Regions from separate parts of the Homo sapiens genome. Here regions 1, 2 and 3 are each reported to be linked to region 4. Evidence: microRNA targets listed by miRTarBase, many of them from high-throughput screens and not tested one by one. Region 4 holds a microRNA gene; each other region holds the end of a gene's coding sequence.

Region 1 (6,080 bases), not on the chromosome of region 4:
ATGCTGGAGAGGGAAGGGCGGTGGCACCTGCCATCCTAAAACCCAATTTAAAAATGTGACACAGAGCTGGGCAAGGTGGTCTATAATCCCAGCACTTTGGGAGGTCAAGGTGGGTGGATCACTTGAGGCTAGGAGTTCGAGACCAGCCTGGCCAACATGGCGAAACCCTGTCTCTACTGAAAATACAAAAAATTACAAGCTGGGCTTGGGGCGCACACCTGTAATCCCAGCTACTTGGGAGGCTGAGGCAGGAGAATCGCTTGAACCTGGGAGGCGGTTGCAGTGAGCTGGGATCACGCCACTGCACTACAGCCTGGGCAACAGTACACAACTCTGTCTCAAACAACAACAACAACAACAAAAAAAAAACGACGTGGCCCGCCTGGGGGGAACATACATTACACAGAATATAAAGGTACACATTTCTTTTTCATTCTGTTTTATGCAGCAAATAATTCGTTGGCATCTTCTCTGTGATGGGCAGCTTGCTAAGATTAGACTCAGGCCCCTTAGCTTCATTTCCAACTAAGCCCACGCTATCAACCAAGCCAAACAGAGGAAATCAGTTTGGGTTGAATTCTTTGCTGGAGACAAAGAATCTACATTCCTGTGTAGATAATGCTGTGTTTGCTCTGTGCAGACACAGATGGAAGGGAAGAGGGAGACAGTGTGGGGACGGAGACAACAGGAAGAGCAGGAGCCGCCAAGGGCCATGTCCTCACCATGCTTAGTCATGCGCTCAGCTGGCAGGGCAGCCATGAGACGTGTGTGCGAGAGGCGGCGATGGGTGGAGGGAACCCCACACCCTTCCTGAGAAGCAGGGGCAGCCTGGCTGCGGCTATGGAGTGGCGGCTGCTTCACCGCTTCCTTCTTGCCTGCAGCTCCTACTGAAGCCCAAGTTCAGCGGCGTGGAGAAGATCAAGACCATCGGCAGCACGTACATGGCAGCTGCAGGGCTCAGCGTCGCCTCAGGGCACGAGAACCAGGTACTCAAGCCCAAGAGGTGAAATTCAGCTGACTGTCCTCACTTAAAGGTGACCTGTCACCTTACTTAAAGGGTGTGCCCTTATCTCGTCCTGGGGGAGGGGCACAGGTACTTGTAGGGCTCAGCCAGGATTTTAGTGGTGGGGATCCTCAACAAGAGTGGCGCGCCAGGGCCCACTAGGTCTGGGGGCTCTGGAGATGCAAGGATCTGACCCACAGCCTGTCCCGCAGGAGCTGGAGCGGCAGCATGCCCACATTGGTGTCATGGTGGAGTTCAGCATCGCCCTGATGAGTAAGCTGGACGGCATCAACAGGCACTCCTTCAACTCCTTCCGCCTCCGCGTCGGTGAGCCCGGGTGATGGAGCGGGGTGGGGAGCCCCTGCCTCTAGGCCAGTCCACCCAGTCTGTGTGGCACAGCTGCACCTCGCCATCTATTATGAAAGGTTTTAGAAATCCCTCTGATCTGACAAGCTCAGCAGTTGGACAATTATTCTGATGTTTTGCATATAGTTAGCATATAGTTACCATTGAGAGTTTTAATAATACGTAACTACAGAAAATGGAGAACCAAAATTATTGTCTGTAAACAGGTGACCTTAAAATATAGAGAAGGAAGCAAAGTTACTAAACCTAAATAGTTGCGGGCCTGCGCTCAAAGCCAGGCCTTTGTTAATACTTTTAACAAAGTATTCTTTGTTAAAAGAGAGATTAGCAGATACAAGTGTTAACATCAAACCCAGACTTCTGAGTCTGAAAAAGAGCTGGCCGGGGAATGCCCTCCTCATACCCCAAGCCCGACTGCAACGCAGTGACTCTGGGAAGCAACCCAGCCTTCACTCTAGTTGTTTTGTCCCCGCATCCTGTGCTGGGGTATGGATTCTCTGGCCTCCTCTAAGGGCAGAAGCTTGAGGCTTTGCCTGCACGCTTGGGTAACTGTAAACATCATCTTCAGGCATAAACCATGGGCCTGTGATTGCTGGAGTGATTGGGGCCCGAAAACCTCAGTATGACATCTGGGGAAACACTGTCAATGTGGCCAGCCGAATGGAAAGCACTGGAGAACTTGGGAAAATCCAGGTAAAGACCTATTGGGGAAGCAGTTGACTAAGGGGAAAAGATCTTCCCCAGAGGTGAGGGGACTTGGACTTAAGAGCTGCTGTCTCACCCAGCAGCCATGGTTCTAGCTATCACACTCTCCAGGGAAGGCAGACTGCATGCCTGGGCAGTCTCTATCTGTCCCTACCATGACAGGTGTTCTTCCCGCCTCTGAAGACAACAGGTCTCTCTTCCTTTTCAGGTTACCGAGGAGACCTGCACCATCCTCCAGGGCCTCGGGTACTCTTGTGAATGCCGTGGCCTGATCAACGTCAAAGGCAAAGGCGAGCTGAGGACTTACTTTGTCTGTACGGACACTGCCAAGTTTCAGGGGCTGGGGCTGAACTGAGGGCTCCTGCTGGATTCCGAAAAGGCCGGGAAGCCAGTCTCCTTCCCTGAAGCAAGCCCAGGAGAAGACTCTCCGCCCCACGCCAATCCCAAAGGCATGCAGATGGCTGTGCATGTTGGCTTCTTTGGACCTGCACTGGAGGATTTCTCAGACACATGCACCAGATTCTGGCTCGAAGCAGCCACTGAGCCATAATGCGCAGGGGAGGCCAGAAGCTCTGTGCCTGGTCTGTAACAGTTTCCAGGCCAGCTGGAGAATGTTCACTGGTTCGGGGCTGACTTTGAGATCTTTGTTCCCTGAGGTGCCAGGCAGGCAACTTTAGCACATGATGAAAACAGACTTCCACCTCAGTGGCCTGTGGGCACGCACAAGTGAGGTCTGTTTTTCTAGACACCAAGGGGGAGTAAGCTGAGCTGTCTAGCACGGATTGGAGACTCCCTCTCCCTGGTGGGCCTGGCAATGACAGCATTTCTCACAGAGGCATTCTGGTAAATGAAGCTGAAAGGGGTGTTTTACATCTGTAAACGGTTTCAAACAGGTAGAGAGAAAAACACCACAATTAACACTGTTACTTTTTGCCTTGTCTGGCATGTTTGTTTTAAATGAATACATTAATGGGGTTTTTATCCTTTTGAATGACTTTTCAGACACTAGACATAAATCTCTTCCCTCCAGTGTATGCTCTGCCTTTTTAACCACTGACATGTAAGGAGGACTACTGTCTAGCATCAGCTTATGGGGTCAGCTGGCTGTGGGGATAGAGTCCTGAGGAATGTGGTCACAGCAAGAAGGCGGGGAGCAGCAGAGCCTTGCCTTTGAATGAGGCAGCTTGTGAGGCAAGCATTCTGGAGAGAGGTGCTTTGAAAGTAAGGTGCGGCCTTTCACCTCTTCCTTGATTACTCACACATCTTTGCGTTCTCCCCTGCCGTCCTTCAACTGTATCTTACTTTTCTTACCAGAAAGGAATGGAGTCTGTTTAGAGACAACTTGGACAACCTGTGAGTGCATCTCTTCTTTCCTTTAGTCTTCACAGCTAACTCTGGAGAGCTTCAAAACTAGAAGGATCTACTCCGCATGGGTGCATGCAGAGGCTCCTGGATCTGGGAAGCCCGCCCCCTCACAAATGCTGAGCCGTTCTTGCTCTGAAACTGCGTGAGTCAAGGCAAATGCAAAAAGCCAGGTTTTGGGGATGTGTCTTACTGTGCTTCAACTTCCCAAGGAATTGAAAGTCAACCTAACTGTAACAACAGGGTGAGAAATGACCAAACTGCCCGTGACTTTTTCTGAATGGACTTCATAACCGGAAGACTTAACCGGTGGCCTCATCACCAGAGCATCGCCAGGATTTCTAATGCACTCAGTTTCCCTACATAGCAGGGATTCTTAGCTAGGTGTCCCCATGAACCCCGTAAAGTTCTACACAAAGTCTTGCATACAGGAGCCTTTACAAGATGATTATACAGGGTTGCAGATTGGGTGACTGACCAGACTTGTTGGGGTCCTGGGATGAGTTGCCCCGGGCTGCAAATTAAGAGTACAGCTAAGTGCGGGGGTGGCGGTGGAGGGAACGAAAATTGAACCTGTCTGCCTGTGCTGTGTCGTGTGGCTTTATCAGCCCGAGGAAGGGCAGGTGTATTCTAATTTGCACAAAGGTGCTGGGTAGACTAGTGGCAGCTCTCATGTGCTGCACATAAGTGGAATCAGTATGAATAGAAGAACTTGCTGTATAAAGGAATTTCATGGCAACAATGCTGGTAAGGGCAATTAGCCTCGCTTAAGTTGCCTTTTTTACACACCAAAACTTTTTACATGAAGGGCTGGTTTCACATGAATACTATACTGAAATCTGTGCTCTCAAGATCTAGCAGTGACCAGGGCTGCCCGGCGGGGGCTCTCCTGGCAAGTCAGGAAGGTTTCTGTTGCTAATATAACATAGAAACACATTAGTGCACTGGGCCTCTCTGAGGTCAGCATATTTGTACTCTTGGAATATTTGTTTTTTTCTTCAGTAACAACAGAAACCCCAGTTGGGAGTTTAACAAATAACTGACTACCACTCACTCATGCATTTTTATTTCCAATTAAAGCAAAGCACTGTGCTGTGCTCAGATAATAATAGTTTGTAAGTAAAAGTTTTTAGTTTTCAGTGTTCAGGTTATAGAATATAACTGACCATAAAAATTACCTGCAGGTATTTTCTTTTTATGAACTTGTTTTTAAATTACCAAGTAATTACTGGTGTCATTTTGTTTTATGACAGACACACGTATCTAACAAACAAACAAACAGTGACCTTCTCCATGGGTCAAGGACTTCCTTACAATTTCTCCTGAGTTAACTTTTGTGAAAATAATACCTAAGGTTTTCTGGCTTATTGAGGAAATTTCCTAACAAACAAACAAACAAACAAACAGAAGAGAAGATCATTAACCACTGTATACTTTGTGTATATAATAGGTCAGTGTAAAGAAATATGATTTGAGGTGGTGCATGCAAGTAACTAGGGTTTATTCTATATAATGAATATTTATAGATCTGTAACATTTGTTTCAAAATGCTGTTTCATTTTTATAAAGTACCAGTGTTTAGCTGCTTTTTATACATTAAATTAGCAATTTGAAAAACTCAAATATCTGAAGGTATTTTATTTTCGTGGTCCTCATGAACTCACTAGAGATTAAAAGTAGACTCAAACAACTTGAAAATTTGACTCTTTTAGCATAAGATTTTAAGTCTTTTGAGGGAATTAATTTTCCTTTACCCTATTTGTTCTTCCTAAATACTAATTAATTTTCAAAGTCAGGAAAATAATAGAAATCAAATGGCTTCCTGCCTGGGTGATTTATAGAAGGATTGTATAAGGGCCTTCAAACTTAATTTGTTCACTGAACAAGGCTATCTATCTATCTATCTCCATCCTGATTTTTTTCCCTTGTGTATAACAGGTTCTATACCGATTCAGCAAAATCACCATTTATCTCAGCTTGCTGATAAAAGGGGGCCATGAATCTTGTGGTCTCCTACTTAGAGTTCAACTCCTTGGGTACTTGACCTTTGTATTTCAGATAAACAGTAAGTAAAGTAGAAATGTCACCTTTTGGTAATCTGGTAATTCCCTGATCTATTCAAGGATGACTTAGTTTATCTTATTTGGCTTATTACTTTGCTATAGTACTAAGTAACTCCTCTTTCTTTAAAAAACGGAAAAAACCAAAAAAGAACACTAGCCATGTGACAGTGCTATAAAACTCCCAGTGTGCTTTTGTCAGGGGTGGGTGGGAGGTGCCTAATTACCCATACAAGGGCATCATTCCCACTGGGTATGCAGGGGCAGAACCACAGTAGTAAATTCTAAAATTATTTCAAGTATGTTCGTATAACGGAAAATCTCACTGGATGGGGCCGTTTTAAGAACGCTTCTTAGTGATGATCCTGTCTGTGGGACATAAGGAAGAAGCATTGGAAGGCACTATTTTGAAAGAATGCTGCACAGGTATGGCAACAGCCCCAAGCACATTCCTTCCTCACGAGTCCCAGGTCCAGCTTTATTACCTAATACAAGTCCAACCTCTGGAACATCCAAATTCGCTGTTCCAAAGTTTAATTAAAAACACAATTTACAAATATTTAATATCTTCTGAAAAGCATTTC
Region 2 (5,947 bases), not on the chromosome of region 4:
TGGGCTTTTGCCTTGAATATGATGAGCTTCTCCCACGGAGCGGAGAGTTGTCAAGGGTGACCTGCCTTCCCTCCCCGCAGGGCTGGAGCAGCCAGAAGTGGAGGCCACGAAGCAGGCCCTGACCAGCTGTGGCTTTGACTGCTTGGAAACCAGCATCGGTGCCCCCGGCGTCTCCATCCACTCAGCCACCTCCCTGGACAGCCGAGTCCAGCAAGCCCTGGATGGCCTCTGAGAGGAGCCCACGACACTGCAGCCCCACCCAGATGCCCCTTTCTGGATTATTCTGGGGGCTGCAGTTCGACTCTGTGCTGGCCAGCGAGCGCCCAGCTCCTGACACTGCTGGAGAGGCCCCAGCCGCTTGGCGATGCCAGCCAAGCTCTGCAGTCCCAGCGGTGGGACCTAGGGAGGCATGGTCTGCCCTCTGCATCCTCTGGAGCCAGCCGAGCAGGAGGCCTAGGAGGGTCCTCTGAGACTCCAGACCTGAGGCGAGAAGGGCTGCTTCCCTGAAGCTCCCACAGTCCCATCTGCTTCAGGCCCCCGCCTTGGCCTGTGTTCTTCCTGGCCGCCTGGGTCCAATGCTCAGGTGCTGGGGCCTGGTTCCCGGAGAAGTGTGCCTTCTCTCTCCCTTTTCAGGGACCGCCCCCTGTCTCTCAGGGCCAGGCCTCTCCCTCCTCCAGGAAGCCTTCCCCTACCCCTTGTCGCCCCTCCCTCCCAGAGCACCTGCTGTCTGGGTGGCTCACTCAGCACTTGGTGTGGCCTTCCCTTCTACCTAGCGGGATGGGGCTCCCCCAGGGGCTGTCCCGGAGGCGGTGGGCCTGGTTAAATAAGGCAGGGTTTATATGCACTTTCTTCCGATCTGTACCTGAGAGGTTTGTGGAAAAGATGGCAAATGGGGAATAAAAAGATTTTGTGTCAACAGTAGAGACTCCAGGCCACCAGCACCTCCCTCTGTCCCTGTCCCCTCTCCAGCTGTTTCCTCCATGGAGCTCTTCAGCAATGGAGGGAAATAGGGTTTGGGGTCACTTTGTTGTGCGTCTTGGGGATGAGGTGGCTTTTCCCAGATGGCCCTTGCTGGAGAGGGACTGGGACACGGCTCTCAGTCCATCAGCACAACTCTAGGCTGCTGCTGCGGAGGGAGAAGTTGAGCTTCCTAGCTCCAGAATCACAAGCACCCACGAGAGCACAGACCTGTGTAAGACAGGAAAGCAGAACCTGCCATCGCTCCTGGGGCGCGCCTTCCTTTCTGAAATGAACTGGCTGGATGGAGAAAACAGACTCAAATGTTCTGGCCCGGGTGCCTGGCACTCCCCACCCCCGCCCCCCACCGGCCCTATTTGAACTTTATATTGCAGTCAGCTTGGTGCTTTCCGAAATGCCATTAGCCATCAGGAAACCCTTGTAGTTGGTGCCTTGCCAGCCAGAACCTCTGGGACCCACGGACCTGCAAAGAGGCCGAGTGGAAAGGTGGGGGCCGGCGCAGGGATTTCAGGATGAGGTGAAAGCGATTCAGTGCGCGTCTGCCCTTGGCCACTAGGGGGCAGCTGGCGGCCTTCCCTGCTGTTGTCTTCCTGCAGGGTGAGAGGAGCAGGAGCCGAGCTCCACCCCCACGCCAGCCTTGGGCCCGGCCTGGGATCACTGCTGGGAACGTGAGAGTGAAGGGAGGACGCCTACCCCAGCTTAACTTGTAGAAATGGCCCCAGATCACTGATGGCTGTTCCCTGCCCCTTCCCTTCAAAACACAACGCATAAAGCAGTAATACTAATTAATACTGAACGCTCACTGTGGACTAGGCGTGTTTACGCATCGCCCCTTCTCATCTCTGCCCCGACCTCAGTGTCATTGCTAGTCTCATCCCCGCTTTACAGACCAGGAAACCAAAGGTCAGAGAGATCGAGTAACTGGTGCAAGTCCACACAGCTCATCAGCATCTGAGGCCGGATTCAAATGGACTCCAGAGCCTGCTCTTAGCCCCTACGTGTGTCTGCTGGGTGCGGCTCTGTGTGCAGGCTCACTGCGATTTTTTAGCTTTCTGTGCTCAGGCTCGTTTTTCTGGATTCGGATGTATTTGACCGGGGTGGGGCTCGGACCTGCATGTTTTCCTCCCCACGCGATTTTAATGAACAACCAGGCCAGAGGCTGCTGTGCCCTCAGTGATGGCGCTGGCTGACAGCCAGCCTCCAGCCTTTAGGAGGTGGGCCTGGGAGCCTCCCCAGGCTTCCATAGATGTCCGCGGCAGCTGTGAGATGGGTGCAGGGGACAGAGGCTGAGACCCCCAGAGCCCGTCTGCTCCTTGAGGCCCTCTCTCTCTCATTCCCTGGGGACAGGATGTCACTCCTGGGGCAGGGGCCAGCTCAACACTCTTGCTCCAGTGAAGCAGCTGCCGGTGCGCTTTGGCCAGAGCAACCTTTCAACCCAGCCACCCCTGCGGCCACCATATGGGCCTGGTGTCACACTCCTGGCTACCTTGTAGACAGTTGGCACTTGCGGCTGTCACCCCTTCTCATTGCCTATTGCAGTGGTTCTCGCTCTCAGAGCTGCACCTCGGAACCACCTAAGGACCCACGAATTCCTGACTCCACCCCAGATATTCTGAGTTAATCTGTCTCAGCGGTATCTTTTTAAAAAGACATCTTTTAAAAGCTCCCAGGTGATTCTAACGTGTGACCAAGCACCACATGGTGCTGCACACCTGTAGTCCCAGCTACTCAGGACGCTGAGGCAGGAGGATCGCCTGAGCCCAGGAGTTGGAGGCTGCAGTGAGCTATGATGGTGCCACTGCACTCCAGCCTGGATGACAGAGTGAGACCCCGTCTCAAAAATATTTTTAAAAAATAAGAAAATGCAGCCAGGGCTGAAGATACCGAACTGGATGACCCCAGGGTCATCTCTGCACGCCATTGTGGTGGTTGAGCACTTCAGCCCTGCCCACCCCCTGGCCATGTGACCTTGGGCAAGACAGCTTACCTCTGGAGGCCACAGCTTCCTCATCGGGAAAGTGGGATTCACTAATACCCACCTTATGGAGGTTTCGTGGGGATCAATGAGAAAATATACAGAAGGCCCTTGACACAGTGCGTGGCACACGGTAAGTGCTCAATAAATACTCATTATTATAACTGTCTTATGCTGAGAGATAAGGGTGTCTTCCAGAGCCCCAAAACTTCAGAATGGTGCACAGAGCTGGCTCAAGGCGCCCTGCCCAGATGGTCCAAAGCCCCTAGGTTGAGACCCCTTGGGTCGCTGTTGGAGAAACACACCTAAGGCCCACCGGCTTTCCCACCTCCCTGCTTCCTCTGCAAAGAGGCGGTCACATAGCACTGACACCTTCTTTGCGAGGGGAACAGCAGTGCCTTTCAGGTCATAAGCTGGAGCCGCTCCCAGGGTCTGCAGCCTGAAGTTCTCAGAGAATTTCCCTGGTTCTGGCAAGGGTCTCACTTTGGGAGGCAGGCAGGAAATACTGTGGTTCTTTCCAGACAGAGTAGCTGCTATGGTTGCACTGATGTCGTCTCTGTCAGTGAGGAGTCCTTTTATTTATTTTTAGACAGTCTCACTCTGTTGCCCAGGCTGGAGTGCAGTGGCGCCATCTTGGCTCTCTGCAACCTCTGCTTCCCAGGTTCAAGTGATTCTCCCGCCTCAGCCTCCCAAGTAGCTGGGATTACAGGTGTGTGCCACCACGCCTGGGTAATTTTTGTATTTTTAGTAGAGACAGGGTTTCCGCCACGTTGGCCAGGCTGGTCTCGAACTCCTGACCTCAAATGATCTGCCCACCTCGGCCTCCCAAAGTGCTGGGATTACAGGCATGAGCCACCACACTTGGCCTGGTGAGGAGTCTTTCCTCACCAAGGTTTCTGTGGCCTGCTGGCAGCCAGTCGCGTTGGCTGGCTGGCTCCAGGTCAGCAAGCGTGGTGGGGGGCCGGCCCTGCCCTTCGCTTGTGCTTGGCCCAGCCAGCTCCTTTCTCCTCCACGGCTGTTTTCCTCCTTGTTTCCTCAGCTAGCGCCCTTTGGAAGACACCTGGCTCAGGGGCCCGCACCTCGCAGGTGCTTCCTTCCCCAGCCCTTCCTGGTTTCCAGCTAATTTTGGACAAGTTCTTTGGCTGTCTCTTAGCACCTACTGTCTTCTAGGAAGGGGCAGAGAGCTGGATTTGAGGCCAGGAGCTCTGGTTCCTAGTCTGAGCTCTTTAGTTCTCAAATTATAATATTTTTACTATTACAGAAACAGTGTAAATACACTGTAGAAAGAAAATACAGATTAGCAAAAATCACATCAAAGCACTGTGTTTTTACCATACAGAGATTACCCCTGTGAACAGCTGCCACCTTTCCCTCTGTGTGTGTGTGTGTGTGTGTGTGTGTTCATGCTGTTCGATAAAGTGAGATCATACTGTACATGCTGTTTTGTTACCTACCTTTTTGGTTTCCAGTCACCTTTCTCTGTCAATATGTTTCATCTCTAATGCCCAGGCTATAGTCACATTTCCTCCAGTTGGGCCAGGTGTCCGGCACCCTGTCTAATACCACATACCTGGCTGTTACAGCCCTGGCTTCTCTTTTAATCTAGCACAGCAGCCCTACACACACACACACACACACACACACTCATACCTATTTTTCTCCATGATATGACTTGCTTAAGAGACCCAGCGGATCATCCTGCAGAATGCTGTGTCTTCTACACTGGTCATTCAGAATCCAGCCCCTCCACATGGCTTTGGGAGGTCTTGAACCCTTTACTGAGCACCTACGATGTGCTCAGCATGGTGCTAAGTGCTTTGTGTGCTTTATCCCTGTGAATCATTTCAGTCCATTGAGCTAATTACCGTGCTTATCCCCATTCTGTTGGTGAGTAAACTGAGGCCCAGAGTAGGGAAGTGACTTGCCCAGGGTCACGTGGCAGAGTGGGATTTGCACGCAGTTCTGTGTAACTTCAGGGCCCTGCTCTTAGCCCGTGTCTAGACTCTCCCCGGGGAGGTGACTGGTGACCTCTCCGAGCTCCCTCTCCCCACCATACCTAATTGACAGAACTGAGTTGTCACATCTGCCCCAGCGGTGCTGGCCCAGCTCACCCCTGCTGCCCGCTTGGCCCTGGCTGTGAACACCTCAGACCCCCAACCTACACAACAAACAGGCAAAGGGAGCAACCTGCCAAAGAACATGATGTGTGGTCTCACAGCACTGTGCCCGGAGCCCCCACCTCCCCATATCCAAGGAAAACCTGGCACTGGGCCGAACCTCACACCTCACACCTCATGTCCTCAAAACTGAAACAGACAAGGGCAATGGTCTCCCAATGAATGCTTCAGTTGCTTGAATCCAAAAGTGTCAGGGTCAGGAGGACCCTTGGAGATCACACAGTCCATCACCTCGTTTGCTGTGAATGCGGAGACCAAGACTCAGAGAGGGCAAGAGATTGCCTAAGGTCACACAGTGAGCCACCTTGTCCTCTTCCTTGCCATTTGGTTTTCTCCATGCGGCAGGGTTGTCACAGGAAAAGCACTTGCAATCCAGAGATCCGTCTTCAGGCCCAGCTTCTGCACCTGCTGGCTGCGTGACTTCCAGCCGGGACTCCTCTGTACCCCCAACTCGGCCTCAGTTTCCTCAAATGTAACATCCCAGGCAGGGTGCTAAACCCCTCAGGCATCATTCCACTTACTTCCCACAGCAACCCTGCAGACCAGGTACAACAGAACCACAATTCTTTGTCCAAAATCCTGGGGCCAGATGTGATGTGGAATGGAGGATTTTGCAGGTTTTAGGGAGACCCCCTCCCGGCCCATGTTTCATTCCACGTGGCATCTGGGGCAGCACCACCAACCCCTGACTCTATATGAAAGGTACGAAGAGTCCCACTAAGTCGAGTGAAGGCCATAAATAATATGTGAGCCTATGTGGCACTGGCCTTTTTTTTTTTTTTTTTTTTTTGAGACAGGGTCTTGCTCTGTTGCCCAG
Region 3 (5,829 bases), not on the chromosome of region 4:
TGAGACTCCATCTCAAAACAAAACACACAATAACAAATATATATATTTGATCAGTTCAAAAGATGCATTTTAAAGTGTAAGAATCTTAAAGTGGAAGTTGCAGCACTTTGCGGGCAACACGTTGGTAGTAACTGGCATTTTCAAGTGTGGGGAGGAACAACTAGTTTCCTGCCATTCAGTTCCTCATTATAACAGTCCTTTGCAATTTTCTCAATTATATTTTAAACAGGTCTGAAGATGCACTGGTGTATCTAGTTCTTTTTACACTAAAATTTGTCTTTGCAGAGCAAAGTCACAGCTGGGGATTGTGAAGCAATTACATGGCTCTAGAAGAAAGAAAAACAAGCTGGGAGCAATGACTCACACCTGTAATCCCAGCACTTTGGGAAGCTGAGGCAGTGGAGGATTGCCTGATCCCAGGAGTCTGAGACCAGCCTGGGCAACATGGAGAGACCCTCATCTCTACATTAAAAAGAAAATTAGCCAGGCATGGTGGTGCATGCCTGTAGTCCCAGCTATTCGGGAGGCTGAGGCAGGAGGATCGCTTGAGCCTGGGAGGTTGAGGTCGCAGGGAGCTATGATCGTGCCACTGCACTCCAGCCTGTATGACAGAGCAAGACCTTGTCTCAAAAAAAAAAAAAAAAGGAAAAATAAGTACCCATGGAAGGATAAGGTTCTGCAGCCTTTTCCTTTGCCATATTTTATCTCTCAAGCATAAGTGTGAAATAATTTCAACAAACCTCATTTGACACAAAGAAAAGTGGTGAAAACAGATATTTTAATTCAAATATGTGGCATTTCTTTCCATGGAGTCTTGAAGACCACACACATTTACAACAGATGGATTAGAAGAGGAAGCAAGAAGTTCTGCCTGCTATAGGAATGTGGCTACAGCTGTCTTAAGGCCCTTTTGTAACTAGTAATACATAAAGCAAATGATGTTAATGACCTTCGTTTTACCCAACCCCTCACTAAAAAGTGGAAATCATCAACTGCTCCACTTCCAATAAGATGTCTCAAATCAGTCCTGAATGTTATCCTAGGGAAAATACTTCAGGAATTTTTTGGATCTCTAAGTTAGGTGTGCACTTAGGTGATACGGGCAATACAAACTTTCAGGACAGAGCACACATGCAGAAGCCAGAAAGCAAGAAGCTGTGTTTAGATAATACAACACTGCCACCTAGAGGCCATACACTAAGGACTTGGACACCATCACCAAACAGGCTGAAAAGGTAGACAAGCTGCCTGTGCTTCGCAGCACATCTGGCTTAAATGAGTAAAGATACTGAGGAAATGTTACAGAGTAGTTAAATATGCTTCCTGCTCACTACCTACAAAGACAGGTGTTGAACTAGCCATCCAAGAAACCAGTTTGGTGATGGTTGTATTAAGATACTTGGAAAACAGTGTAAAAATCATACTTCCAATCTCATGAAAACATTTCAAAACTGTGAATTTATTACACACTGATTGAATGAATATGCATTTCTTTAATGTGTCAAATAAACCTAGGAACATGGGATATAAACCAAGGTAAACAGGCTTCCTTATTGCAGGTCTTCTCAGAACCTTTCATATTTGACTGTATGTAGAAAATCTCCAAAGAGAGACTACAGATTGCAAGTTTCCAAAACTTAACTATAGAATCCTTTTGTTGTTGTTGTTGTTTTCTTTCTTTCAAAACACACCAGTGAGCAAACTCGCCCTCCCTACTAGGAAAGGAAGGTCGAGTGGTAGTTTGCGGCTGCAGGTTATGGAATCAAACTGCATGGGTTCCCATTCTAACTCTACCACTTTACAATTGAGCCGTTCTGTATCTATTTCCCCTTCTGTAACATAGGAATATAACACCTACTTCCCAAGGAGTTGTGAAGATTACAAGGTAATACACGTAAACCACCTAAAATAATTAGTGGTGGTTGGCTTTCCCTTCAAGTCCTTCTTGGATGTTATTTGTATCCAAAGTATCCTAATGTACCGTTCCGGGAAGTTACTATTAACAAATAACACTCACCTGGCACGGTGGCTCATGCCTGTAATCCCAGCACTTTGGGAGGCCGAGGCAGGTGGATCACCTGAGGTCGGGAGTTCAAGACCAGCCTGGCCAAAATGGAGAAACCCCATCTCTACCGAAAAAATACAAAATTAGCCGGGTGTGGTGGCGCATGCCTGTAATCCCAGCTACTCAGGAGCCTGAGGCAGGAGAATCGCTTGAATCCGGGAGGTGGATGTTGCGGTGAGCCAAGATTGCGCCATTGCACTCCAGCCGCCTGGGTGACAAGAGCGAAATTTTGTCTCAAAAAAAAAAAAAAAAAAAAAACCTCTCCAGTTATGCCCAGCTGCTGTCCACATTCCCCTTACAGACTATGTTCCTTTGGGACCCCCAAGAGGGACAGGGGGAGCATTTAAACTAACTAGCTTACTTACTAGCTTAGATGGAAAACAGTGGTACTAATAATCTCTTTTGAATAACTGGAAGGGCTTTCAGCATTTGCAAAACAAAGGATAGAGATCCTTACCAAAGTCCAAAATTCACACACAGTGCTTTCTCCAACAATGCTTGATTTTATCTTTTAAATCATTTCTCCACACAGAACTCAAGATGTAGAAGGTAAATTAACTCCCAAATACCTCCAGCATTCTATATTGAGATATTATATACATGCATATATGTATGTGTGTGTATATATGAATGTGAATGGGAGAGGTGGTGGTATGTGAAATAGCTAAAATACCTTGCTGCTTAAGACTTTAAGGTATTTTTTAACCATCTGTCCTAGTTCTCTTTGAAGTAGACTGGTAGAGATCAACATCCACTGGGATGCAAAACATTTCAAGCAAAACCCTGATCATTTTATTCTCCGTTTTCTTCATCCTGAGTTGTCTCCTTTCACATTTACTTTCTATTTCACAATTAAAGACTTCTCCTTAATCACTGACTGAATTTATAATTTTCAGTAACAGGAAAACATAACATTTATTGGGCATCTATGTACCACATGCATCTTGAAATATTCTCTCCATTTAACCAATGGGAGCCTAAGGCCGGAGGCTGCAAGTAAAGGCATGCCACGCTGGGCTGCCAGGCCTGGAGGACAAGCCCTGTTTTGCCACTAATTAGATCTATGATGAGGCTGGCCACCCTTAGTGTACCCTCAACAGTGCCAGTTCACACCTGCTGCTCAGGCATCCTTACTAATGGCATCCCTTCCACTCTCAACAGTATCTGGAATTTAAGTTATACAGTCTTCCTAGCTACAGCCTCAACAAGGCTCCTTATCCCTCTGCACCTGTTTCCAAAATCTGAAAAAGAAGACAGGATTAGATAGTTTCACAAGAGTTTTTTCAAGCTGTTTCTGTGATTTCCATTTCAGAATTAAAACAGCTTCTAAAGTAGTCCAATTACAAAATTTAAAGATCTTTCAATCTGTCTTCCTCCCACTGATAAACTAATGTCTATTTTTCTCTGATTAGTTTAGACCCAACCTGTTTGTATAGACAAACAATTATTTAACTGACATTTAAGAGTGAGTCAATGAGTATGTCAGCAACTGGAGGAAACAGAAAACAAGCTGGAATCGGTACAATTGTTTAAGTGTGTTTTACTTCACTCATCTCCTCACTCCTTCTTAGGTTGGATTAACACATTAATGATGCCAGGACCAGGATACTCCCCACCATGTGTGAGATTTGTGTATATGAAACACCCAACCAAAAACATTTTCACCTGAGCTTAGATTTACTACCCTAGAGCAGAAATGGGCCAGGGGAGATACCTAGACACAAGGCCATGAAATTCCCACATCGGGATAGAACCTGAAGCTCTGACACATAAGAAACATTAACCACAGGAAGCAGCAAAAGAAAAAGAAATGGATGAGAAAACGGCAAAGTGGGACAACCCAACGTTCCGCCACCACCCTCCATACCTCAGGCAAGGAGAAACGCTGATTTTGGAGTAAATACATTTATTGATACCCATTTCATATATAGTTCAATGAAATAATCTATAAATATAAAAAGCATTTTTCTTTTGGATATCACCATGGTCCATGTAAATACTCAAGTCAGAATCACCTGCAGGAAGCACTCCAAGTCACACTGTTAGCTTTACAGACCTGAATATACATATTGCATTAAACAGTGGCACTTATGTACTCAAGTGGTCCAGTGGCTTTGGAATATATGTCTACTGGGCATGTGGAATAGAAATAATGTGTTAGGTTTAAATCAATGGAAAGGGTATCAACCATCAACAAAAGCAACAATTATGAATTCATATCCTAGGCAAAGAAAGTACCACAGTTGACACTTGGTGTCAGAATACTAGAGACAAAGTATGTAAAACAATGCCTGTTGCAGCACCACGTGCTCACTCCAACTCCCAGTGGACAGTCCCCCAATGCCTTAGGGTCACTCGTGGTCAACCAAATGCAATCAAGAAGCTCGATAGCTTAGAATAAAAGGTCTGTAGAGGCTGATATCAAGATTAAAGTAAGCTAAACATTTCAGTGACACAATGAGTTTCTCCCCTAGAAGGGGACTGTGGGAAAACTTTTAATTCCCTTTGTTACACTGAGCATGATCATTTATCTAATGCAGAAGAAAGAACCCAGACATCTGGTACTCAGAACATAGGTGCAAAAATTTTCTTCCATTTCAAAGTTTTTTCAATACTTCCGAGGGAACTAATGCAACCACCGTTGAGCCTTGCTCTCCACCTGATGCAGCATAAAATTTTCTCTCATTTCTTCAATATAGGAATGTCTTGCTGCAGACTATGTGTCTTCCGAGTTAGCAAGCAAATGCATTTAAAAGGTCTTAGTTGTGCAATGTCCAAAACTGAAATCTGAGAGGCAGTGTTAGAACTTAAGCAAGGCAGAATTTTTAGAGTCTACTCAAATGAAAGCCTAAGTGAAGCATATAAAAATTCAGTCTTTTCTATTATTTTCAACTGGAATTGATGGCAACATTCCCTGGTAAGGATGGGTAACTGGTGTTATCTCCAGGTCCAAAATATCCCAACTACTTAAAGGGGACCCAAAAGAGGAGAAACACACACTTGAGTTCTGTGGTCTCCAGAATTTTTTTTTTTTTTTTTTGCCATTTTCAAAAAAGATATAGTAGCTTCAGTTGTACACCACCAGTTGAAGGGGTTTTCATCCAAATGAGAAACTCTACCCCTTGTCTCTAGTGGAACAGGCACCAGATTCCCACAAGCAGCAGCTCCCATGTCCTGTAGCACGTGGCATCCGACCCTGGAGTGAAGAGTAAGCTGGCACAGAGCCCCGACGCTGGGATTCAGACTAGATGGCGTTTCGTGGCGTGCCATTGTGTGTCAGCGCTTTCAGACTGGAGGCACTAGTCTGGTGACCACAGCTCCTGTGAGAAGTCACACCCACCTCAAAAACCTCATGAATAGCTTTTCGGAAACAGTGGAAGTTGTAGTCTATTAAACCTGCAGGAAGGAAAAAGAAAAGAATGCCTCCTGAATTGTCAATTGTGAAATTTTATATTTGGGTTTGCAGCCAAAAATAACTCGGATAAACACTGGTTGGAAATTCTTAAGCCTCCAAACTAGATAGCAACTTCTTCAATCGTAAGAACAGCTGGTCATCGGTCAGGTGCAGTGGCTCACGCCTGTAACCCCAGCACTTTGGGAGGCCGAGGCGGGCAGATCACAAGGTCAGGAGATCAAGACCATCCTGGCTAACACGGTGAAACCCCGTCTCTACTAAAAATACAAAAAAAATTAGCCGGGCATGGTGGCGGGCACCTGTAGTACCAGCTACTCAGGAGGCTGAGGCAAGAGAATGGCGTGAACCT
Region 4 (6,112 bases):
AAAAATCCCTAACATCCAAAGATGACACACAGACAGTGTTAGATAATGTAACGGTGCACAGTACTACGTCTAGAAGGCCTACGTGTAAGGTTGGGCAGAATAATTTCTATCCTTGCTCACTTCTGAATGCTTTAATAATGTCTACTTTTATAAATGTTTTGTTGTAGTTAAAAATATTACTCTATAAAATTTCCAAGGCACATCAACTTCAGACGAATGCTTCAGGTGAGGGTTTCCATGTAAAACGTGCTGGAGGCTCATATTTTGAACATCTGCCCTCAGTAGATCCTACTGATACAAGCACACTGACATACATAGTGGCTCAACCCCAAACAGCTGATGAGGTAAAAACACAAAGCTCATTTGGGAGGCCGAGGTGCGTGGATCACCTGAGGTAAGGAGTTTGAGACCAGCCTGGCCAACAAGGTGAAATCGCATATCTACTAAAAATACAAATATTAGTCATGCATGGTGGCACACGCATGTAGTTCCAGCTACTCAGGAGGCTGAGGCAGGAGAATCGTGTGAACGTGGGAGGCGGAGGTTGCAGTGAGCCAAGATTGCGCCACTGCACTCCAGCCTGGGCGACAGAGCGAAACTCTTGTCTCAAAACAAAAAACGAAAAACAAAAAAACCCCATGAAGCCTAGTGTTCTCTCTCAACCCCAGCTCAAACAGATATTTTGAAAAGGAAACAGAAACTCCACACACTTCCCTGTTTGCCTATTTCCATGTTTACATTTCTCTAACAGCTAACACTATGTTTGGTTAGTTTAACTAAGTTATCCTGCTCACTTAAAATTCTATTTTTTTCTGGTTATATCTGACAATAGCTCAAAGGTTCTTAAAACCTAACATGTTTGGGGAAAAAAAAAGGTCACACTTAACTGCATTTCTTCTTGTCACAATGACACCCAAATTTAATAAATATTTTACGAAAAATACAGCAAAAGGGCAGCACTGACTAATAACGTGCACTCAGTACTGCCGGGCGTGCTCCTTCTTCACGTCTTCCTCCCTTTTACAGAGCTTTCCTTTTAAGTGTGAACTTTGAGTAGAAAGAGGCTGGATTAATGATAATTGGTGAGTCCACAGGACTCACACGACAGCCAAGAAATACCACACTTTGCAGGACTAATGAAATCTCCACTGTTACATCTTAATAACATCTTGAAAAATATACCGGGTAAATGTAATGAAGGAAAAAAGTACACTTAACCTACTTTGTAAAACTGAATTCTACATAAACATGTGCACTGTATATACCGTGTACAGGCATTTCAGGTGCGTGAACACACTTACCCGTCATGGTCGGTGACTCTCTTCGCTGCCCTCCATCGTCTTTCCCTTCATAAACCACCGTAACATCATAAATTGCATCTAAATAATTCTTCATGCAATCAAAAGCAACGTGAGTTGCCTTTATTCGTGGTGTTAGCACATGTTTTAATACTGCAAGGCCTAGAAGTCAATTCAGTGCCGTCATTAATTAGTTACAAAACACCTCCACAATATACTGTTTAACATCTAAATTATTTTTAAATTCCCTCAAACACACACAACAGAATCTATTAATTCCACAACCTCATATATTTAGGGCTCTAAGTTTAGAAAGCACTCTCACTTGCCTTTTTCTGTTTAAATCAATATTCATTTGCTATATATTGATCAAATATCTACATGTACAAGTCACCGTGTTGGAAGTTTATGGCCTAGCGGAAACGCTTCAATCTAGTAGACCCCGGCAAGGGTAAATATTAGTGCCCTCGCTTCTGGCCACTGAACAAAGGTGATAGCATCTTGCCCATGGTGACTCAAGATTTCCTAGAAATACAGTCACACAGCACATGGCCTCCTGTTTCTGGCTTCTTTCGCTCAGCATGGATCTGAGGTTCATCTGTGTGGCTGCAGGACTCAGTGCTTCATTCCTTTTTATGGCTGAATAGTTAGTATTCCACTGTGTGAACAGATCACATTTTGTTTACCTATTAATTGCTTCATGGACATTTGGGTTGCATCCATACTTTGGCTATTATGAATAATGCTGCTATGAACATTCATAGGAATTGCATATGAAGGCTGCAGGTGAACAAGCTTTTGTATGAACATACGATTTCAATCCTCTTGGGTATATCTGACATATTTTTAAAAGGTTCTTTAGCTGGGGGACTACTGCAATTATCCAGAACAAATCCCATTCATTAGGTTCCTACTAGGGTTAAGGATTTGTTCTTCTCTCCTTCCTATTACCTCCCTTTTCCTTGATTAAAATATTTACTGACAATTTAACAGAAAACAGTAGCTCTCAATAAGTGACATGAAAATAGACTATAAAAAACTAGTCTAGATTTTCTACTGGCCTCTCTGGAGGGAAAGTAGCTGAGTAAGGAAGAACAGCTATTACATGGTGGGACTGTCCCACACAAGAGGTTTTAAAATGCAGGGTGGTGTGGGAAAGACAAAGATTCCCACAAGCACGTATCTGACTTTAGTCCCCAGGGCAGGGGCAGTTAAATTGATTCACAAACTTGCAACAAAAATCTCAATCGCACACCAAGCTGGGAAGCATTTATTTGTCAGTTAAACTAGTTAACACTTCCTTCTTTGCTACTGGAGCTCATCCAACTTTATGAAGTCCAAAGTTTCAAAATATCACTCTGTGGTGTTCACTAAAACAACTAATTACTGGCATCCAAGTAAGTTAGTAAGGAAATAAAGACAGAAAGCTAGTATTTTTAAAACATAAAAGGAAATGAATTATCATGAATGTTTTAAAAAAATAGCTTTGTGACTAGGCTTCTGCTCCAGAACGCGTAGATAAAGCCACACCATAACTAGAAGGGGAATGGCCAAGAGGAAGACATGCAGAGCATGCCTGCGTGCACCCACCTGCCATGCAAAGATAAGTGGAAGAGCAGGAGGCAGGGAAACAAAGAGAACACGGAGCCGGGCGCGGTGGCACGTGTATGTCTGTAGTCCTAACTACTCAGGAGGACTGCTTTAGCCTGGAAGTTGGGGAGTGGGGGAGAGAAGGAAGAGAGGGAGGGAGAAGAATGCAGAAAGAAAAGAGAGAGAGGAGAGAAAGCAAGCAAGCAAGAGAGAACGAGTGAGGGAAGGAAGAAAGGGAGGGAGGGAAAGAAAAGAAGGAAGGGAGAGAGAGCGAAAGAAAGAAGGAAGAAAGAAGGGGGAGAGAGAACATGAGTTCAAATTGGGCATACTGAGGCTGAAGGAACAAAACATTCTAGAAGTAGTTGGAAATATGGTCTGTAAAATGGCAAGAATCAACCGAAGCTAAGCATGTGGAAACCATGGGAATGGATAACTGAAGTAATGGCAGTGGCTGAGAATAATAAAGGGCAGAAGATGAAAAGGCAAGAAATACAGACTCCGGAAACATCCACATTAAAAAAAAAAAGGTAAAAATAATAACAGGGAATACGACAACCCAGGAAATAAAAAAAGGGGGGAAACCAATGTAATACAAAAACAAAGGGAAGAGATGTTTAAAGGAAGAGGAGGTGATATTTATCTTCAACAAGAAAAATTATACTCCATTGTTTATTTCTACAATAAAGTTAAAATTATTTCCTGGTTATAAAGGTATAAATAATGTCAAAAGTTATGTGAAAGTTAACAAATATGACAACTGACACAAATGATACGATGCTTTGGAGGTCAGTGGTTAAGTGAGAAGTGGGATTCATTTCTGGAGAGTGGATGGAGTCAAACACAAGAAAGCAAGGGGCCCAGACTTCTCTTTGCACAGCTATAGACTTAGTTATTTCAGAATTGGAGTACATTTGCAAGCTGGGAGAAACCCCTGCAGAGAAGTAAGGCAGATGACTGAGGCAACGATGGAGACAGGGTAGACGGAATCAAGAGCTTAGAAACTGTTGACGTTGCCATGTCTAAGAAGAAAATTTTTCTCCAAAGTTTTCTTCTTAGACATGGCAGCTTCAGCAGTTTCTTCCAAAGAAATCCAAGTCAAGAGACTCCACATTAAGATTTTGAAATCAAAAGGGATATTGGGTGCACTCTTTCCAGAGAAATATAACTTTCTGAAAGCAAAAAATCCTTGAATGTGAAGAGAACAAAAATCCGTGAAAACCATGAGGTAGTCAAAAGGAGAAAAATAAAAGAACTGCTCCACACAGACTTGGCTCGGCTGAAATGAAATGGCCTGGCTTGGCTGCAGAAGGCAGTCAGCATTGATCTTACGATGTTCTCCACTGCTAAGGAAGGGAGAAAACAAACAGGGTTGCCAAGGGCTGAGGAAAGGCAGGGCAGGAACAGAACAGCCCAGCACTGGGATGGGCAGACCCCGGGGCTGGGGCAGACAAGAGCTGCAGAAGGCCCTGCAAGCTGCAGAAGGGCCAAGGAAAGAGAGATTAGAAATCAGCCAAAAACACAGGTTTAGAGCGAGTGAGGAGGAGGGAGAACCAGAGTCAGCTATATGGTGTGGGCGAGCCAGTGCCATTTCCAGATGAACTTCAAGGTGGTAAAAGCAGAGCACTGGACCCAGCACAGGACCTCGAACCAAGCACAGGATCCCAGACCAAGCACAGGACCCCGAACCAAGCACAGGACCCCGTACAGGAGAACAAGATCCCCCCAAGCCTCCACAAAGGACTGCAGCCCTGCCAACACCTTGATTTCAGCTGAGTAAGACCCATTTCAGACTTCTCAAATGTAAGAGAAGAAATCTGTGGTGTTTTAAGCCACCAAGTTTGTGGCCCTGCCTGAGAGCAGCCACAGGGAGCAAACACACCTTCTTAAGAGCGAGAGTGCCGTTACCACACAAAGCTGAGCACTAGCTTTCTTGTTTGCTATGCTTTCTCAGAAGTTGGCTTCAAAGTATTCATTTAATTTCTACTTCTTTGATTATGAGAAAGAATAAACATTTGTTCAAGTGTGTGGGTCATTTGTATCTCTTGAATTTCTTATTCATGCCCTTTTCCCATTTTTCTAGTTTATGTCTTTTCTAATTATGAAGCACTTTTGTAATATTAAGTATATTAATATCCTATATTATAAAATATTATTAGCTTGCCATTTGCCAACTAAATTTGTTCATATGATGTTTGAGACATAAAAATAATTTTTATTCAGTTAAGTCTACAAAGAAAAAAATTGCTTTGTAGCTTATTCCCTTTGTTCTCCTGTTTTGAAAGAACTCTCAAATCTCTACAATCGCCAGTGTTATTCACCCTATGAATAACATGGAAATTCTAGGTATCTGGTTTGCCATTATAGACACATCATTAAATTTCTGTTTTCTTTTAAGAGAGTTCAAAAAGCTTAAGTATGTCACCTTCGCTAGCAACTATGGTTTTAACCATGGCAATTAAAAAAAAAAAACCACCATAGGGGCTTACTTTAATGGGTCCAGGTGGCAGATTAAGATACATTTAATTCCACATCCCTTATAACCATTAGAAAGCCAAATACCTAAAACAAGTCTAAGGAAAATTAGTTAAAACAAAACCCTTCGAACAGCTGAGAAAAGTTTAAATATTACCACAGTGCCTGCACTTCTGCAGGACCCCATCTGAACAGCTTCTTCCTCCATGTCTAAGTTTCCTATAAGAGGTATGCAACTGCTATCAATTTGTTCTTTTTGTGAATAAAACTTAGGCAAAAAAACTGAATGATGGAGTTACCAAGACAAGAAATATGAGTGTATGCATGGAAGGATAAATTCTATCTTCAATATGCTGAGTTTGAGACATCCTTTTGGGCCAGTCAAGCGAAGCTCTCTAATGGACAATTGTACAAATGGGTCCAGAGTTAGGCAGAGAGACATGGAGGGGAGGAAGCTTTTGCGAGTCATCAGCAGTCAAGGAAACGATGGCTAAAGCCATGGATTTAGAGGAAGGCCACCATGAGAAACAAAAAGTGAAATTAATCAAACACCAAAACCTGACACTGGAAATAACACATGTAGCAGGGAGAAATGAAGCAGAAAGAGGCTGGAAAGGAGGCTAGGAAGTAATCGCCAGAGAGTTGGGAGGATAATGGAGAACAGCCCCACAGAAGTCTAGGGAGAGAATTTCAAATCAGACCAAAACAAATTGAGGGCAGAGTGAGTACTGGAAAAAGTGCTTACAACAAAG

What was found. Region 4 holds the annotated microRNA hsa-miR-4659b-5p (UUGCCAUGUCUAAGAAGAA, at 3,899-3,917, shown strand). A microRNA usually pairs through its seed, bases 2 to 8, with sites in the 3' UTR of a target mRNA and lowers its output. Matches are read on the target gene's strand: a 7mer-m8 pairs with bases 2 to 8, a 7mer-A1 pairs with bases 2 to 7 and ends in A, and an 8mer does both.
Region 1: the mRNA of ADCY7 is a reported target of hsa-miR-4659b-5p. Seed matches in the 3' UTR shown: 8mer at 4,168-4,175.
Region 2: the mRNA of MVK is a reported target of hsa-miR-4659b-5p. Seed matches in the 3' UTR shown: 7mer-A1 at 883-889.
Region 3: the mRNA of RRAGC is a reported target of hsa-miR-4659b-5p. Seed matches in the 3' UTR shown: 7mer-A1 at 5,104-5,110.

The regions. Positions count from the first base shown.
Region 1 is chr16:50,313,077-50,319,156 of GRCh38, forward strand. It overlaps ADCY7 (adenylate cyclase 7), which reads left to right. Exons shown (of 26, transcript NM_001114.5): 23 at 882-986; 24 at 1,216-1,330; 25 at 1,938-2,062; 26 at 2,283-5,059. The coding sequence ends at 2,429. BRD7 (bromodomain containing 7) reads right to left here. Exons shown (of 17, transcript NM_013263.5): 17 at 2,881-6,080. Among named protein-coding and RNA genes, the nearest start is that of MIR6771, 24 kb to the left of the region's middle. RefSeq lists enhancers at 356-1,555, 6,018-6,080.
Region 2 is chr12:109,596,346-109,602,292 of GRCh38, forward strand. MVK (mevalonate kinase) reads left to right here. Exons shown (of 11, transcript NM_000431.4): 11 at 81-1,780. The coding sequence ends at 232. Among named protein-coding and RNA genes, the nearest start is that of MVK, 26 kb to the left of the region's middle. RefSeq lists an enhancer at 2,183-2,872.
Region 3 is chr1:38,834,244-38,840,072 of GRCh38, forward strand. It overlaps RRAGC (Ras related GTP binding C), which reads right to left. Exons shown (of 7, transcript NM_022157.4): 7 at 3,955-5,461. The coding sequence ends at 5,310. Among named protein-coding and RNA genes, the nearest start is that of RRAGC, 23 kb to the right of the region's middle.
Region 4 is chr8:6,743,018-6,749,129 of GRCh38, reverse strand. It overlaps MIR4659B (microRNA 4659b), which reads left to right and starts at 3,890; the gene lies at 3,890-3,962. AGPAT5 (1-acylglycerol-3-phosphate O-acyltransferase 5) reads right to left here. Exons shown (of 8, transcript NM_018361.5): 6 at 1,302-1,460. It overlaps MIR4659A (microRNA 4659a), which reads right to left and starts at 3,966; the gene lies at 3,886-3,966. RefSeq lists enhancers at 656-805, 1,728-2,022, 2,624-2,673, 4,286-4,365, 4,396-4,675 and a silencer at 2,814-2,863.